Regions from separate parts of the Homo sapiens genome. Here region 2 is linked to region 1. The links come from fine-mapping of genetic effects on gene expression. A gene starts in region 1. The other region holds a variant in brackets. All regions are shown on one strand. Distances are between the middles of the regions. Region 1 holds the start of UBE2Z (ubiquitin conjugating enzyme E2 Z). Region 2 overlaps SNF8 (SNF8 subunit of ESCRT-II).

Evidence for each region. PIP is the estimated chance that this variant, and not a neighbour inherited with it, causes the effect.
Region 2: its variant is fine-mapped to the expression of UBE2Z in monocytes (Fairfax 2014, PIP 0.95).

The regions. Positions count from the first base shown.
Region 1 is chr17:48,903,392-48,911,916 of GRCh38, forward strand. UBE2Z (ubiquitin conjugating enzyme E2 Z) reads left to right here and starts at 5,016. Exons shown (of 7, transcript NM_023079.5): 1 at 5,016-5,429; 2 at 7,417-7,489. The coding sequence starts at 5,113. It overlaps LOC105371814 (a long non-coding RNA gene), which reads right to left and starts at 5,592. Exons shown (of 4, transcript NR_135674.1): 1 at 5,548-5,592. RefSeq lists silencers at 5,155-5,404, 5,675-5,804 and enhancers at 6,678-6,727, 6,748-6,797.
Region 2 is chr17:48,932,454-48,940,453 of GRCh38, forward strand. It overlaps SNF8 (SNF8 subunit of ESCRT-II), which reads right to left. Exons shown (of 8, transcript NM_007241.4): 4 at 4,567-4,671; 5 at 3,717-3,789; 6 at 752-893. Among named protein-coding and RNA genes, the nearest start is that of SNF8, 8.4 kb to the right of the region's middle. The variant CA/C (reference allele first, on the strand shown) is at 3,059.

The DNA of each region.
Region 1 (8,525 bases):
GGAATTTTCACTATTCTATATTGCAAAATATAGGCTGCAAAAATAGGCTTCAAAGAAGGTAAGAGATGCAGATTAAAAACCTGAACCTCCATCTAAATCTAAGGTAAGGGTTTTCTGTTCATTGCCCCATCACTACCAGACCTTGTACTTGAAAATAATGGTCCAGTGGTGAGATACACTGAGGAATCCCCTCACCCCATGGGCCACCTCTGGGCCTTTGTATTCTGTAGCTATGGAGGAGCTATGGAATAGTGTTTTTCTTTGTATGAGGTTACCAAGCAAACTGACCTTTGACCACCTTACTGAATAAATAATAATCAAGCAAAATTCTGGAGTCCTTTTTTTTTTTTTTTTTTTTTTTGAGACATAGTCTCCCTCTGTTGCCCAGGCTGGAGTGCAGTGGCGTGTTACCTCCCGGGCTCAAGTGATTCTCCTGCCTCAGCCTCCCAAGTAGCTGGGATTACAGGTGCCCACCACCACGCCCAGCTAATTTTTGTATTTTTAGTAGAGATGGGGTTTCACCATGTTGGCCAGGCTGGTCTCAAACTCCTGACCTCAAGTGATCCGTGCACCTCAGCCTCCCAAAGTGCTGGGATTATAGGCATGCGCTTTGCAATCTCAGCTCACTGCAACCTCCACCTCCCGGGTTCAAGCAATTCTCCTGCTTCAGCCTCCCGAGTTGCTGGGACTACAGGCGCGTGCCACCACGCCCAGCTAATTTTTGTATTTTTAGTAGAGATGGGGTTTCACCATGTTGGCCAGGATGGTCTCGATCTCTTGACCTCATGATCCACCCACTTCAGCCTCCCAAAGTGCTGGGATTACAGGCATGAGCCACCGCACCCAGCTGGCAACCACTGTTAACATTTTCTTGGGTATCCTCTTTTTTTTTTTTTTTTTTTGAGACAGTCTCACTCTGTTGCCCAGGTTGGAGTGAAACAACACGATCTCAGCTCACTGCAACCTCTGCCTCCCAAGTTCAAGCAATTCTCCTGCCTCAGCAGGAGTAGCTGGGATTACAGGCGCCTGCTGCCATGACCAGCTAATTTTTGTATTTTTAGTTTAGACGAGGTTTCACCATGTTGGCTAGGCTGGTCTCGAACTCCTGACCTCAGGTGATCCACCTCAGCCTCCCAAAGTACTGGGAGTACAGGATGAGCCACCACTCCCGGCCTTGTGTATCCTTTTATAGATATTCTGGCATCTTTATTATGCTGATAAAACACTATACCAACAAAACGCAAAATCTGCATAAAATACTATATTGATTCATTTCATTTCATGTTGCGCCTAAGCTGTGCCATGCCCTGTGCTGGATTCACATATAATACATTGTCTAGAGCCCCAAGGGTGTACACGTTGTGTGCGTATGTGTGTTAAGAGGGGATGGGGATGCTTATACCTGTAATCCCAGCACTTGGGAGGCTGAGTGGGGTGGATCACTTGAGATTAGGAGTTCGAGACCAGCATGGCCAACAGGGCGAAACCCAGTCTCTATTAAAAATATAAAAAGCAGCTGGGCATGGTGGCCCACACTTTACAAAAACTTCTGGAAATGTCATAGTTAATCCTCTGGGAAACTTTGAGAGGTAGGAATTACTGAAAATACAAAATTAGCCGGACGTGGTGTAGTCCCAACTACTCAGGAGGCTGAGGCACAAGAATCCCTTGAAACTGGGAGGCAGGGTTGCAGTGAGCTGAGATCAGGCCACCGCACTCCAGTCTGGGTGACAGAGCAAGACTCCCTCTCACAGAAAAAAAAAAGGGGGGGGGGTGGGGGCAACAGGTACCAAGGGACCATAATTAGTACAAGGTAAAATATAAGTGTGGGAGTGTCACGTAGTGGTTAGCACTTGTTCTCAGAAGTCAGATTTGGTTTACAGTCCCAATTATGCGACTTGCTCTCAGCATGACCCCATGTAATTCACTGAACCTCTGTAAGTCTGTTTTTCCATCTATCAGACCAGATTAATAATAGTACCTAAGGCCAGGTGCGGTGGCTTACGCCTGTAATCCCAGCACTTTGGGAGGCCAAGGCGGATGGATCATAAGGTCAGGAGTTCAAGACCATCCTGGCTAACACAGTGAAACCCCATCTCTACAAAAAATATAAAAAATTAGCCAGGCGTGGTGGTGGGCGCCTGTAGTCCAGCTACTTGGGAGGCTAGGGCAGGAGAATGGTGTAAACCTTGGAGGTGGAGCTTGCAGTGAGCCGAGATCGCGCCACTGCACTCCAGCCTGGGCGACAGAGCAAGACTCCAAACCAAAAAAAAAATAAAAATAAATAAATAATAGTACCTACTACTTCACTGAGTGTTGAAAGGAATAAAGCCAAAGTATACAAAATGCCTGCCACATATTAAACACTCAATAAATGTCTGCTAAAAAAATAATTTTTTAGGCCAAGCACGGTGGCTGACGCCTGTAATCCCGAGCACTTTAGGAGGCCAAGGCGGAAGGACTGCTTGAGCCCAGAAGTTCGAGACCAACCTGGGCAACATGGTGAAACCTCGCTTCTACAGAAAAATACAAAAATTAGCCGGGCATCGTGGCACGTGTCTGTAATCCCAGCTACTTGGAGGGCTGAGGCAGAGGTTGCAGTGAGTTGTGATCCCATCACTGCACTCCAGTCTGGGTGACAGAGCAAGACCCTGTCTCAAAACAAATCAATCTTTAGCTCTCCATAAATCTTGGTCATTATCCTTCAGGTCTGCATTCCATTACTGTAAATTCATAAAACTCTAAAAGGCAGGAAGGGTGGGGTGGGTGGATGACTTCTGTAATCCCAGCACTTTGGGAGACCGAGAAGGGCGGATGACTTGATCCAACTCCAAAAGGAGTTGGAGACCTTCCTGGCCAACATGGTGAAACCTCGCCTCTACTAAAAAAATACAAAAAATTAGCCAGGCGTAGAGGCGCCTCTACTAAAAAAATACAAAAAATTAGCCAGGCATAGAGGCATGCTTGTAATCTCAGCTACTGGGGAGGCTGAGGCAGGAGAATTGTTTGAACCCAGGAGGCGGAGATTGCAGTGAGCCACGATTGCGCCATTGCACTCCAGCCTGCGTGACAAGAGCAAGATTCCCTCTTTAAAAACAAAAAACAAAAAACAAAAAAACTCTAAAGCCAGACTCTTTTTTTTGAGACGGAGTCTCACTCTTTTACCCAGGATGGAGTGCAGTGACTCAGTCTCGGCTCACTGCAACTTCTCCTTCCCGGGTTCAAGTGATTCTTCTGTCTCAGCCTCCTGAGTAGTTGGGACTACAGGCGCCTGCCAACACACCCGGCTAATTTTTGTATTTTTAGTAGAGACGGGGTTTCACCATATTGGTCAAGCTGGTCTCGAACTCCTTACCTCAGGTGATCCACCCACCTCGGCCTCCCAAATTGTTGGGATTACAGACGTGAGCCACCGTGCCCGGCCCAGACTTCTTTTTTAAAAAACCAAACTTGGTGGCAAAACATCCAAAGTGAGGCTATTCATTTGACTTGGTACGAATGTTCATACACTTTGATGCAGAAATGTCAATAGGTTTGGCTACCCGGCGCTGCCCCACTCCTTGCTTGGTGTGTCATTCCAAAGTCTGAAATACATCTGGCCCCACTGGTTTCCAGTTAATATTGATCCTATATTTTTGCTAGGGAAAAAAGTTTTTGTTTTTGTTTTGAGACGGAGTCTTGCTCTGTCGCCCAGGCTGGAGTGCAGTGGCACGATCTCCGCCCACTGCAAGCTCCGCCTCCCGGGTTCACGCCATTCTCCTGCCTCAGCCTTCCGAGTAGCTGGGACTACAGGCGCCCGCCACCACGCCCGGCTAATTTTTTGTATTTTTAGTAGAGACGGGGTTTCACAGTGTTAGCCAGGATGGTCTTGATCTCCTGACCTAGTGATCCGCCCGCCTCAGCCTCCCAAAGTGCTGGGATTACAGGCATGAGCCACCGCGCCCGGCAAGGAAAAACAGTTTTTTAGGAAGGCCCCTGTCATTCTTAGTCCATAGGAATTTTTTTTTTTTTTTTTGAGACGGAGTCTGGCTCTGTCGCCCAGGCTGGAGTGCAGTGGCGTGATCTCAACTCACTGCAAACTCCGCCTCCCGGGTTCAAGTGATCCACCTGCCTAAGCCTCCTGAGTAGCTGGGACTACAGGTGCACGCCACCACGCCCGGCTAATTTTTGTATTTTTAATAGAGGCGGGGTTTCACCATGTTAGGCTGGTCTCGAACTCCTAACCTCGTGATTCGCCCACCTCGGCCTCCCAAAGTGCTGGGATTACAGGCGTGAGCCACCGAGCCTGGCAGATTATTTTTCACTTTAAACATTTTAGGAAAGACCCAAAGAATCCTCAGGGTTTACACTCACAGTACCTCGATTCCTGTATATTCCAAGATTTGTGGGAAGAAAAAGTACTAAGCTTGGAGTCAGGAGGCCTGATGTTTCTTCCTTTCACCAAGCTTCTCTAGTTCTGTTTCATTATCCCCATGGCAACAACTAGCAACAGTGACTGGCATTTAGTAGGCCCTTCATAAATATATGTTGAATAAACTCTAAAAGAGGTAGCTTTTCATTCCAAGTTGAGTTCTCTCTTGGTCCTGTTGCAGGCAAGGGCAATGGTACCCTGCCCTAGGTGCACAAGTGTGCAGGAGGGATCAATCGCAGAGCCTTTCCGAGAGAAGGGGCCCAAAGCGAGTCAACTTCTCTACTGAGCTTCCCATGAGGATGCTGGATCCCCAATCCTAACCATGCAGACGTCTGAGGGTCGCCGCCATTAACGGGAATGATATGGCCCTTCCTCCCCCACTCCCTCCTCTCTTCTCCCCTTTCAACACTTGAATTGGGCTCTCCGCTACTTCCGCACAGCGCAGGACCCACACGAGCCCAGAACCATCACGGCCTGCTAGTTCCCACCCCTCCCGTCCTGGAGGACCGTAGGTGGACGCTCTTGCAGAGCGCCTCTCGCTGGTTGGGGCGGGGGTGGGCGGAGCCAGCACCGTCTGGGCTGTGGAAGCGGAGGGGGTGGGGACACTCTGGCCCGGTTCTCGGTGGTGCGGGAGCGGGCGGGAGCAGCGGCCGCTCTGGTCGGCGGACGTGCTGCCGAGTAGTCCCGGAAGCGAAGCAGCGATGGCGGAGAGTCCGACTGAGGAGGCGGCAACGGCGGGCGCCGGGGCGGCGGGCCCCGGGGCGAGCAGCGTTGCTGGTGTTGTTGGCGTTAGCGGCAGCGGCGGCGGGTTCGGGCCGCCTTTCCTGCCGGATGTGTGGGCGGCGGCGGCGGCAGCGGGCGGGGCCGGGGGCCCGGGGAGCGGCCTGGCTCCGCTGCCCGGGCTCCCGCCCTCAGCCGCTGCCCACGGGGCCGCGCTGCTTAGCCACTGGGACCCCACGCTCAGCTCCGACTGGGACGGCGAGCGCACCGCGCCGCAGTGTCTACTCCGGATCAAGCGGTGAGCCGGGGTTTTTCCTCCCCCAGCCCCGAGCTCCGGGGCTCGACCTTCCCCGCCCCCCACCCTCTCCCACTACAACTCACCCCCCACCCACTGCGCTGCCCTCGCGGCGGCCCACCTCCACGGCCCAAATCTTGCCAGCTCCGGGCGTCGGGATCCAACTCCCTTCTCCCCCCACCCTCAGACCCGCAAGCACCAACCCCCGCCTCGTGTGCCCAGATCCGACCCCGCCCCTCGACAACCTCCCGTGAGCCCTCCGTCTCCATTCCGGCCACCCTCCCCCACACCTCCCACCTCCGGGTGGAAACCCGACCCTTTAGCGCTTCAGTAACGCCCCCTCCCGCCTTCGGCGCCGCCCCTATTTCCCCTTCCCCACCCCAACCTTGCTAGATGCTGCCCGCAGGCCCCACCCATCGGTCCCCTCTCTTCTCCTCTGGAGCCCCGTTCCTAACACAGACGAACTCAGCTTCCTTTGCCATGCCTCTGACTCGAGCCAACCTTTCTTTTTATCCTCCGTTTTTCTCAGATTCCCTCCACACAGTCTTTTCCCAGGTCTAGATCGCTTCCCTCGCCCCAATCTTTCCTTGAACCCCTTTTCCAGTGTCCCAAAGCTGTCCACTCTTACGCCTCTTCCAGAAACACAGGCTACCTCCCCCCAATTCCCCAGTGCCACTCTGGATTGTAATATCCCACTCAGGAGCTTCTTTCTTGTAATTTCCCTCCCCCCACCCCCCACCCTCCCCGGGTCGTCTGTTTTACTTCTATGAAGCAAATATACTCATCAAATATAGGAACAAAGGCCTAAGTCCTTTCTGTGCTTATTTCTTGGGTGACTGATCTTAGATCCTATCATTTAGTAGATGATGTTTTCCAGAAGCACATAGAATAGTACCTATCGCATAAGAAAAGGGCAGTGCTCTTTAGCTATTAATCCTGAAACCTGTTTGACTTCTCCCCATGCCCCCATCACAAGCATCTTCGTTTAGTTCTTATTCCCCATGTTCCACGTCCTTTCAGATGTCTCTGTGTCTACTTTTCAAGGTTGTAATAAAAATTAATATAATGTGTGTAAAGTACCTGGCACAGTGCCTGACACAGGAGGTCAACTGTGGAGGGATTGCCACCTCTAACTGAAACTCAGCACTCAACTCTTTTCCTCCTCCAGCCATTTCAGTCATCCAATTCTGACATACCTTTGAGTTTGGCCAATGCTTTCCTCTGCTTTGTCGCCTATTTGCCCTTTTTATGTCCCTACCCACCCTAGCAAGTCCCTAGGCTTTTCGCCACCTAGAATGTTCTTTAGCCCCTTGCTCTCAACTGATCCATTCCAGTTGGTGAGATATGAGTCAGAAATCTTATCTCCTATGGAAGTCCACATGTCATCTTCCAGATGGGAGATTCTTAGCAATTTCTGAGGATCCCTCCCCAGCCTGAAGAGATCTCTACCCTGAGACACCCCTGGGCAAGAAGGCCACCATGATAGTCTTACTCTCTGCTGGCTGGCTTGCTTCATACAATCCCCTTACCAATAAAGGTCCACTGTATAGTTTATAGAATTAGTTTTTTAGTGGAGTTGATGATGCCTTTCCAGTTACTAAAAAATCTTCATTTAGCATTCAGTCGTAGTACCTGGGAATCATGGAGGTGGGGAGTGAATGAATTGCCATGTGGGAGGAAGTGAGAGTAAGTGGAAAGTGGCTTTTCCAGGCTGACATTTGATGCCATTGGGATCTCTGATTTTTTTCCTCTCTCCCTCCCCTCCCCCTGAGGAAACAATGCCCTTTTGATAATAATTTGCTCTCTGCCTGCCTGACAAGTACTCAGCTGAGATTTCTCAGCCAACAAGACAGTACAAACACTTGCGGTACCAAGCACCACTTTCTCAAACCCTGGCCTCATTGAGGTGATAACAACTGTCCTGCTCAAGGGATTCCCCCTTTCCCCCTCTTCCTCACTCCTTCCCCCACCTCCTCTTGGTGTTATACAGGGATATCATGTCCATTTATAAGGAGCCTCCTCCAGGAATGTTCGTTGTACCTGATACTGTTGACATGACTAAGGTATGTAACTTGATGGGGGTTTGGGGGGTTTTGGGAAATTGGGGGCCATAAGGTTGCAAAAGCCTAAAAGAGATTATTCAGCTCACCTCTCCGATTACACAGATGAAGAAATCAAGACCCCAGGAGAGTAAGTGGCTTGTCCAAGGTCACATAGTGAGGTGGAGCAGCACTTTGAAGAGGTGTCTGTTATTAGTGTACCCCATAGGTACTGATTGGCTTGGAAAATCCCAGTTCATGTCTGTTGTCGCAGCTTGACTATTTATAGGGCATTCTTTCACTCTCAAAAATGCTCCTGTTTGGATAATAAATTATATGGTCACCCTATCCATTGTACTACCCAGCTCTTCCCCCATCCCGTTACTCTTGACATTAACTATGCTATGGTACTATAAATCAGATGTAGGGAAGGTTGGGAATAGGGCAAGCTTGACTGAAGTGTTTGTGGTTAAAGGACTTTGCTCAGGATCCTGTCCTTACTGGTTGCGTTTAAGTATCCCTTCCACCCCAAAGACTATACCTCTCTTGTCCTCCTCTCAGAGAGAAAGCTTAATACATAATGTCACATTTCTCTGGCATAGATACCTAGGTTTCTCTGTCACTGAATGCTCTACCCACAGAAGTGCAGTTGCACTTAAACTGATGTTAGAAAGAAATCATATTTCCTAAACCTAATGCTGTTTAAGTGAAACACATAGTTTTCTTACAGTAAATTTCTTACAGTAAAAATTCAGATTTTGTATTGTTGGTGTATCTTTTTTTGTTGTTTTGAATAGATTTCCCTTCATATTTTTTTTTTATGTAGTTAGAAATGTTTTTCCTAGGACATCTCGTCCTCAGTCAAGTACCAGTGTTAATAGCCTAGTACCTGGGGTCCCAGAGTTGATGCCATGTTGAGACCAGTTGAGTTTACTATTCCAAATGACTGAGAGCCAGAATATGACGTAGGGTCTTGCCAGGAGGGCAAGGTGGGAACTATAGACTTAGGCATTGGATTGCCACGTCCCTTTCCTTTTGCTGTTCAAATGCTTAGCAGACC
Region 2 (8,000 bases), 29 kb after region 1:
AAAGGAAACTGGGCCGGGTGCGGTGGCTCACCCCTGTAATCCCAGCACTTAGAGAGGCTAAGGTGGGTGGATCACCTGAGGTCGGGAGTTCGAGACCAAACTCAGGCCTGGCCAACATGGAGAAACCCCATCTCTACTAAAAATACAAAATTAGCTGGGCGTGGTGGCACACACCTGTAATCCCAGCTACTCGGGAGGCTGAGGCAGGAGAATCACTTGAACCCGGGAGGCTGACATTGTAGTGAGCTGAGATCACGCCATTGCACTCTGGCCTAGGCAACGAGTGAAACTCCATCTCAAAAATAATAAAACTGAACACATCTAAATACCTGATGGGGATTTGGGGGAAGATGGCATATGCTTAAGGCATGATGAGGGATGGGGGCATGGCAAACAAGATTTTTTAAAATCTGTTTTTGAAGAATCCATAAAGTAGTTTCAAAAGACATCAAAGAGTCTGGCTACCCAAAGAAATCTAGTTAGTTGTCTGCATGTCTGTCTACCTGACTAGACTGTAAGCTCCTTGAGAGCAGGAATTTTATCATCTTTATATGCCCCACAGCCTGGCCCAGTGCTTTGCACTGTAGCTGCTCAATAAATGTCTGCTGAACAAGCACAGGCCTGAGTAGTTCATCCACTGGATAGTCTCAGCAAAAGACCTGCATAATGGGGAGCACGAGCTGAGAACTGCTCCAGACTTGCCTCACAGACTGTCCCTTGCACACACACACACTCGAAGGTGCACCAGTACCTCTGCCAGCTGCAGCACCACGGTGTGATCCATATTGAGCTCAGCTGGAACAGACTGAATGAGGTAAGTGCCGCCCACAGGGATGATGCCGAAGCCAGTGCCAAGTGCCTTTAGTTTCTTGATGGCTCTGATCAGGTCATCTCTGAGGTAAGGAAGAGTTGCTTAACGACCCTTGGCAGAATCAGACCTAACAACACAGTTTCAGCTCTGCCCTGGGCAGGATACTGACAGAAAATTTAGAAGACTGCACAACTGCCAGGCGCAATGGCTCATACCCATAATCGCAACACTTTTGGGATGCCCACATTGAGAAGACTGCTTGAGCCCAGGGGTTAGAGACCAGCCTGGGCAACACAGCAAGACCTTATCTTTACTAAAAATAAAAAATTAGCAGGGCATGGTGGCAATCGCCTATAATCCTTGGGAGGCTGAGGCAGGAGGATCACTTGAGCCCAGGAGTTCAAGGCTGCAGTGAGCTGTGATTGTGCACCACTGTACTCCAGCCTGGGTGACAGAGCGAGACCCTGCCTCTAAAATAAAAGGCTGCACAACACTCAACTACGTCAGTAAAAAGACAGGGTCAAGGAGCAATAAGTGATGCTTGGACAATCATGGGAGATACACAGGAGTCAGGCTGTCTGCTCAGCGAACCACTCATTCCAACATCCAGACAGCGGTCAAAGATACACCTGCAGATGCCCATCAGGAAATGTGAATGAGTGAGCTGAAGAGGCAATGGGGGTAGTGTCACCTGTGGCAAACTAGAGAATGCTTATCTATTTTAAAGGGGGCAACCCAGCTGACTATTATTGCCAAGTGGCAATTCAAACCCAATACTGCCAAGTTTTCTGATTCTAATTGAAATCAGAGAAAAAGAAAACCTACAAAACAGTGTGTAGATCACATATCCAGCCCACATACAGAGTTTAAAACCTCTGCCAAAGCTCAAAAAATGTTATCACCCAAACAGCCAGGGAAAGGGCACTTTTAGGTAGATTGGAATGCATTCTCCAACCCCCAAAGAATAGCAAACTGAAATGCTTCAAATGCTCACCCTCTCTTCATGAAATCTGCAATGAGTATGGCTAGTAATCTTTTGTTATCACTTTCCTTTTTTTTTTTTTTAGGAGATGAGGTCTTGGCTGGGCGCGGTGGCTCACGCCTGTAATCCCAGCATTTTGGGAGGCCGAGAGTTCGAGACCAGCCTAGCCAACATGGTGAAACCCCATCTCCACTAAAAATACAAGAACTAGCAGGGCGCCAGTGGCAGGTACCTGTAATCCCAGCTACTCAGGAGGCTGAGGCAGAAGAATCATTTGAACCCAGGAGGCGGAGGTTGCAGTGAGCCGAGATTGTACCACTGCGCTCCAGCCTAGACAACAGAGCAAGAGTCCATTTCAAAAAACAAAAAAAAAAAGTAGAGATGACGTCTTGCTCTATATCCCAGGCTGGAGTGCAGTGGTGCAATCATAGCTCACTGCAGCCTAGAACAATGAGTGCATGCCTCAACACCCAACTAATTTTATTTTTTGTAGAGACAAGGTCTCACTACACTGCCCAGACTGGTCTCGAACTCCTGTCCTCAAGCGATCCTCCCACCTCAGCCTCCCAAAGGGCTAGGATTACAGGTGTAAGCTATTGCACCCAGCCTCGTTACTTTTCTTTGAATATTCTAGGTCTTCAAGATCTCATAGTAGGCTGACTCTTTGGAAGTTACATCAAAAACAGCCTTTTATCTTTTCTCAAACTGGACTCGCACATAGAGGCTGGAGAACTAGATCAATTTATATTCCATCATCTCACTACCACCTCCTTCCCCAGCCTTTCTAGGCACCTACACTACTCTCCTTGGCCTCAAATAATCTCACGACTATATACAGCCCTGGCCAGCCGTGGTGTCTCACACCTGTAATCCCAGCACTTTGGGAAGCTGAGGCAGGCAGATCACTTGAGGCCAGGAGTTCAAAACCAGCCTGGCCAACAACGTGAAACCCCATCACTACTAAAAATACAAAAATTAGCCAGGCGGCCAGGCGCGGTGGCAGACACCTGTAATCCCAGCACTTTGGGAGGCTGAGGCGGGTGGATCACGAGGTCAGGAGATCGAGACCATCCTGGCTAACACAGTGAAACCCCGTCTCTACTAAAAATACAAAAAATTAGCCGGGCGTGGTGGCGGGCGCCTGTAGTCCCAGCTACTCGGGAGGCTGAGGCAGGAGAATGGCGTGAACCCAGGAGGCAGAGCTTGCAGTGAGCAGAGATCACGCCACTGCACTCCAGCCTGGGCGACAGAGTGAGACTCTGTCT[CA/C]AAAAAAAAAAAAAAAAAATTAGCCGGGCATGGTGGTGCACACCTGTAATTCCAGTTACTGGGGAGACTGTGGCACGAGAATTGCTTGAACCCAGAAGGCAGAGGTTGCAGTGAGCTAAGATCGGGTCACTGCACTCCAGCCTGGGTGACAGCAAGACTCTTTCTCAAAGAAAAAAAAGACTATATATAGCCCCAAGTTTGTTAAAAAATAATACATGAAAAAATGCTTAGAAGGAACTACATTAAAATATATAGCAGTTGTAATCTCTTAATTGAGAAATAATGGTTTTTGTTTCCTTTTTTAAATCTATATTTTCTGTTTTCTAAAAATAGCCAGCCATACTGGCCCATGCCTATAATCCCAACTACTTGGGAGGCTGAGGTGGGAGGATTACTTGAGCCCAAGAGTTTGAGGCTGCAGTAAGCAATGATCTTGGTAGCAGTAAGCTGTGATCATGCCACTGTACTCCAGCCCGGGCAAAAGTGAGACCCTATCTCTTATTTTTTGTTTGTTTTTTGTTTTTTTTTTTCCTGTATGATATGGAGATCATACAGATTTCTAAGCTAGCCTAGACATGAGGAATAGGGAGAAAAGAGTTCCATCTGAATTTTAAAGACCTCTTTCTGTACTCCAAGGGATTGGAAGACAAGACCTACTGACTGACATCCTGGGCGAACTTGCCCCTTCCCTTCAACACCTGTTGATGTAGTTCCTCCAAAGTTATCAGACCTGTTTGGAGACAGGGAACAGAAATCAGAAAAAGAGATTACCCACTTTAAATAAGTTGACAGTCATTACAATTCCAGTGGCCTACAAGTAGCAAATAACATTCTAGTTCCTAATTTTTTTTTAACACTCTCCTTATGAAATAACTGACCATAATATGAGAAATGGATTCTGAGACCTTGCTAGGCCTGTCAACAGAGAGCTACGAAAATCTAAAAACAAAAGCAGTATCATCTTTGAAAAACTATAAATGTCCTCTTGACATCAAGGCCGTGTCTATTTATAGTTGATGATGATTTGTAAATGGTTTTAAGTTTTCTTTCTGTAACTTCAATCCACACCATTTAACGTGCTTACTAAGAAAGATGGCATCACCAGATGACAAATTTTAAGGTCACATTTTAGGGAACACAGACTCAGTTGGCATTCCCATACGTCGGAGAGACAGTGCAGGACTATAGTTACTAATGAGAAAATCACTCCAGACACATCAGACATCAGGGGAAAAGGCCTACTTCCTACCTCTCTACTATTTTCTGTACTGACTAGGGACTAGACCTTCCTGGCCAAAGATCTTTGGAGAACAGAGACAATCGTTCAGGTAATTCTATTTACCCTTGGCCATGGAGACTTGCCATGGATTCAACTGCATGAAACAGCTAAGATGTCTCTCAAGTCCTTAGAGGCCTGTAGACTGCAGGATGGAAACGATAATCTTTTACGGTTTTCTCCCTCTCAGAGAAGTCCAGAGTCCAGTTCACAGGACCTAGCCACCCTCACCTCCATTCCGATGCTTCAGCGCCAGGCACACTTCGATAATTTGGACACCTAGTTCGTAATAGAAGTCCCCCACGCCCAGCATCTCAGACCAAAATCCTTTTCCAGCTACAAGACAGAAAAACAAAATCTCGGTTATTGATTAATTTACATCCCTTCTTTTCTTTCAAACCTGCATTAAAACATCTATCATATGGGAAGTCTTCCCTGCATGGCATGAAGTTCTTCTGCTCCATCTGCTACTCAGGAAACAATCGGACTCACGGTAACTCCTGCTGAAGAACAGGGTCAGACGGCTCCAGAGGGCAGGCAATCTAAAAGTCATTTCTGGCCGGGCGCAGTGGCTCACGCCTGTAATTCCAACACTTTGGGACATCGAGCTAGGTGGATCGCTCGAGACCAAGAGTTCAAGACCAGCCTGGCCAACATGGCAAAACCCCATCTCTAATAATAATAATAATAAATTAGCCAGGAGTGGTGGCGTGCGCCTGTAATCCCAGCTACTTGGGAGGCTGAGGCAGGAGAATTGCTGGAACCCAGGAGGCAGAAGTTGCAGTGAGCCAAGATCGCGCCACCATACTCCAGCCTGGGCAATAAGAGCACAACTCTCTCTCAAAAAAAAAAAATACAGCCGGGGACAGTGGGTCACGCCTGTAATTCCAGCACTTTGGGAAGCCAAAGCTGGTGGATCACAAGGTCAAGAGATAGAGACCATCCTGGCCAATACAGTGAAACCCTGTCTCTACTAAAAATACAAAAATTAGCCGGGCGTGGTGGCGCGTGCCTGTAATCTCAGCTACTCAGGAGACTGAGGCAAGAGAATCGCTTGAACCCGGGAGGCAGAGGTTGCAGTGAGCCGGGATTACGCCACTGCACTCCAGCCTGGCAACAGAGTGAGACTCCGTTTCAAAAAAAATAAATAAATAAAAATAAATAAATAAAAATTTAAAAAATAAAACAAAAGTCATTTCTATTTGGCTAATTCTGGCTCAGGATACTGAAAAAACGAGTTTCCATTCACAAAGCATGCAGTGAAATATAATGGGAAATATGGTCTAGACAAGACTAAGAGAAAGAATATGCAGACTCAGCATTCAAAAATCCACTGAATGTTCTGTGAGTTACCAGGAGTGTAGAAATAAAAAATAAATAAATAAACAATCCACTGACGACAATATTCTATTCAGTGAAAAATGCAGGTTGGGCGCAGTGGCTCACGCCTGTAATCCCAGCACTTTGGGAGGCAGAGGCAGGCGGATCACCTGAGGTCAGGAGTTCGAGAACAGCCTGACCAACATGGAGACACCCCGTCTCTACTAAAAATACAAAATTGGCCAGGCATGGTGGTGGGCACCTGTAATCCCAACTACTTGGGAGGCTGAGGCAGGAGAATCGCTTGAACCTGGGTGGCGAAGGTTGCAGTGACCCAAGATCACGCCATTGCACTCCAGCCTGGGAATCAAGAGCAAAACTCCATCTCAAAAAAAAAAAAAAAAAGAAAACAAAAATGTAGGTTATAGAGCAGTAGTAATTATATTATAATCCCATATATGTTTACAAAGTTGGGGCCACGCCAGGAGCAGTGGCTCACGCCTGTAATCCCAGCACTTTGGGAGGTTGAGAGGGGCAGATCACGAGGTCAGGAGATCAAGACCATCCTGGCTAACATGCTGAAACCCTGTCTCTACTAATCATACAAAAAATTAGCCGGGCATGGTGGCACATGCCTATAGTCCCAGCTAGCTACTCAGGAGGCTGAGGCAGGAGAATCACTTGAACCCAGGAGGCGGAGGTTGCAGTTAACCAGGATCGCGCCATTGCACTCCAGCATGGGCAACAAGAGCGAGACTCCGTCTCAAAAAAAAAAAAAAGCAGTAAATTATATAGTGCAATGCCTGGCACACAAATAAATATCGTTTATGATTGTTATTCATTGTTTGAGATAAAATCAGTCATCTGTAGCCGGGCGCGGTAGCTCACACCTGTAATCCCAGTACTTTGGGAGGCCGAGGCGGGTGGATCACGAGGTCAGGAGTTCAAGACCAACCCGGCCAAGATGGTGAAACTCCGTCTCTACTAAAAATACAAAAAATTAGCCGGGCATGGTGGCACATGCCTATAGTCCCAGCTAGCTACTCAGGAGGCTGAGGCAGGAGAATCACTTGAACCCAGGAGAAGGAGGTTGCAGTGAGCCAAGAGTGTCACACCACAGTACTCCAGCATGGGCAACAGAGTGAGACTCTGTCTCAAGAAAAAAAAAAAAAAAAACACTGGGGCCAGGCACGGTGACTCATGCCTCTAGTCCCAGCTCCACTTGGGAGGTTGAGGCAGGAAAGTAACTTGAGCCCTGGAGTTGAAGGCTGCAGTGGGCTGATTGCACCAATGCACTCCAGCCTAGGTGACAGAAACCTCAATGCTAAAAAATAATAAATTAGTAATTTCTTTTTTTTTTTTTTTTGGGGGGATGGAGTCTCGCTCTGTTGCCTGGGCTGTTGTGCAGGGGCGCGACCTTGGCTCACTGCAACCTTCACCTCCCGGGTTCAAGTGATTTTCCTGCTTCAGCCTCCCGAGTAGCTGGGATTACAGGCATGTGCCACCATACCTGGCTAATTTTTTGTATTTTTAGTAGAGACAGGGTTTCACCGTGTTAGCCAGGATGGCCTCATCTCCTGACCTTATGATCTGCCCGCCTCAGCCTCACAAAGTGCTGGGATTACAGGCGTGAGCCACCGCGCCCGGTGAATAATTTTTTTTAAAGTTTATAAGTATGAGGAAGGGCTCAGTGCAGTGGCTCACATCTATAATCCCAGCACTCTGGAAGGCCAAGAAAGGCCGATCACTTGATCCCAAGAGTTGAAGACCAAACTGGGCAACATGGTGAAACCTCCTCTCTACAAAAAATACAAAAATTAGCCAGATTTGGTGGTGCAGGCCTGTAATCCCAGCTACTTGGGAGGCTGAAGCACAAGAATTGCTTCAACCTGGGAGGCAGAGGTTGCAGTGAGCCAAGATGGCACCACTGCACTCCAGCGTAGGTGACAGAGCAAGACTGTCTCAAAAAAAAAAAAAAAAAAAAATTTTTTTTTTAAACAAGGTCTTGCTGCAGCCTCAACTTCCCAGTCTCAAGCAATCCTCCCACCTTAGCCTCCCGAGTAGCTGGACTATAGACACATGCCACCACACCTGGCAAATTTTTATACTTTTTGTAGAGATGGAGTCTCGCCATGTTGCCCAGGCTGATCTTTAACTCCTGGATTCAAGTGATCTGCCTGCCTTGGCCTTGCAAAGTGCTGGGATTACAGGCATGAGCCATTGCACCTGGCCAAAATTAAATATTTTTTAATAAAGAGGGAAAATGCCATAAAAAATTCTACTGTAGATCATTCAAGGAATGATCACAGACACTGGCTACTCAGCCTATAGTCGGTCTATCTTCC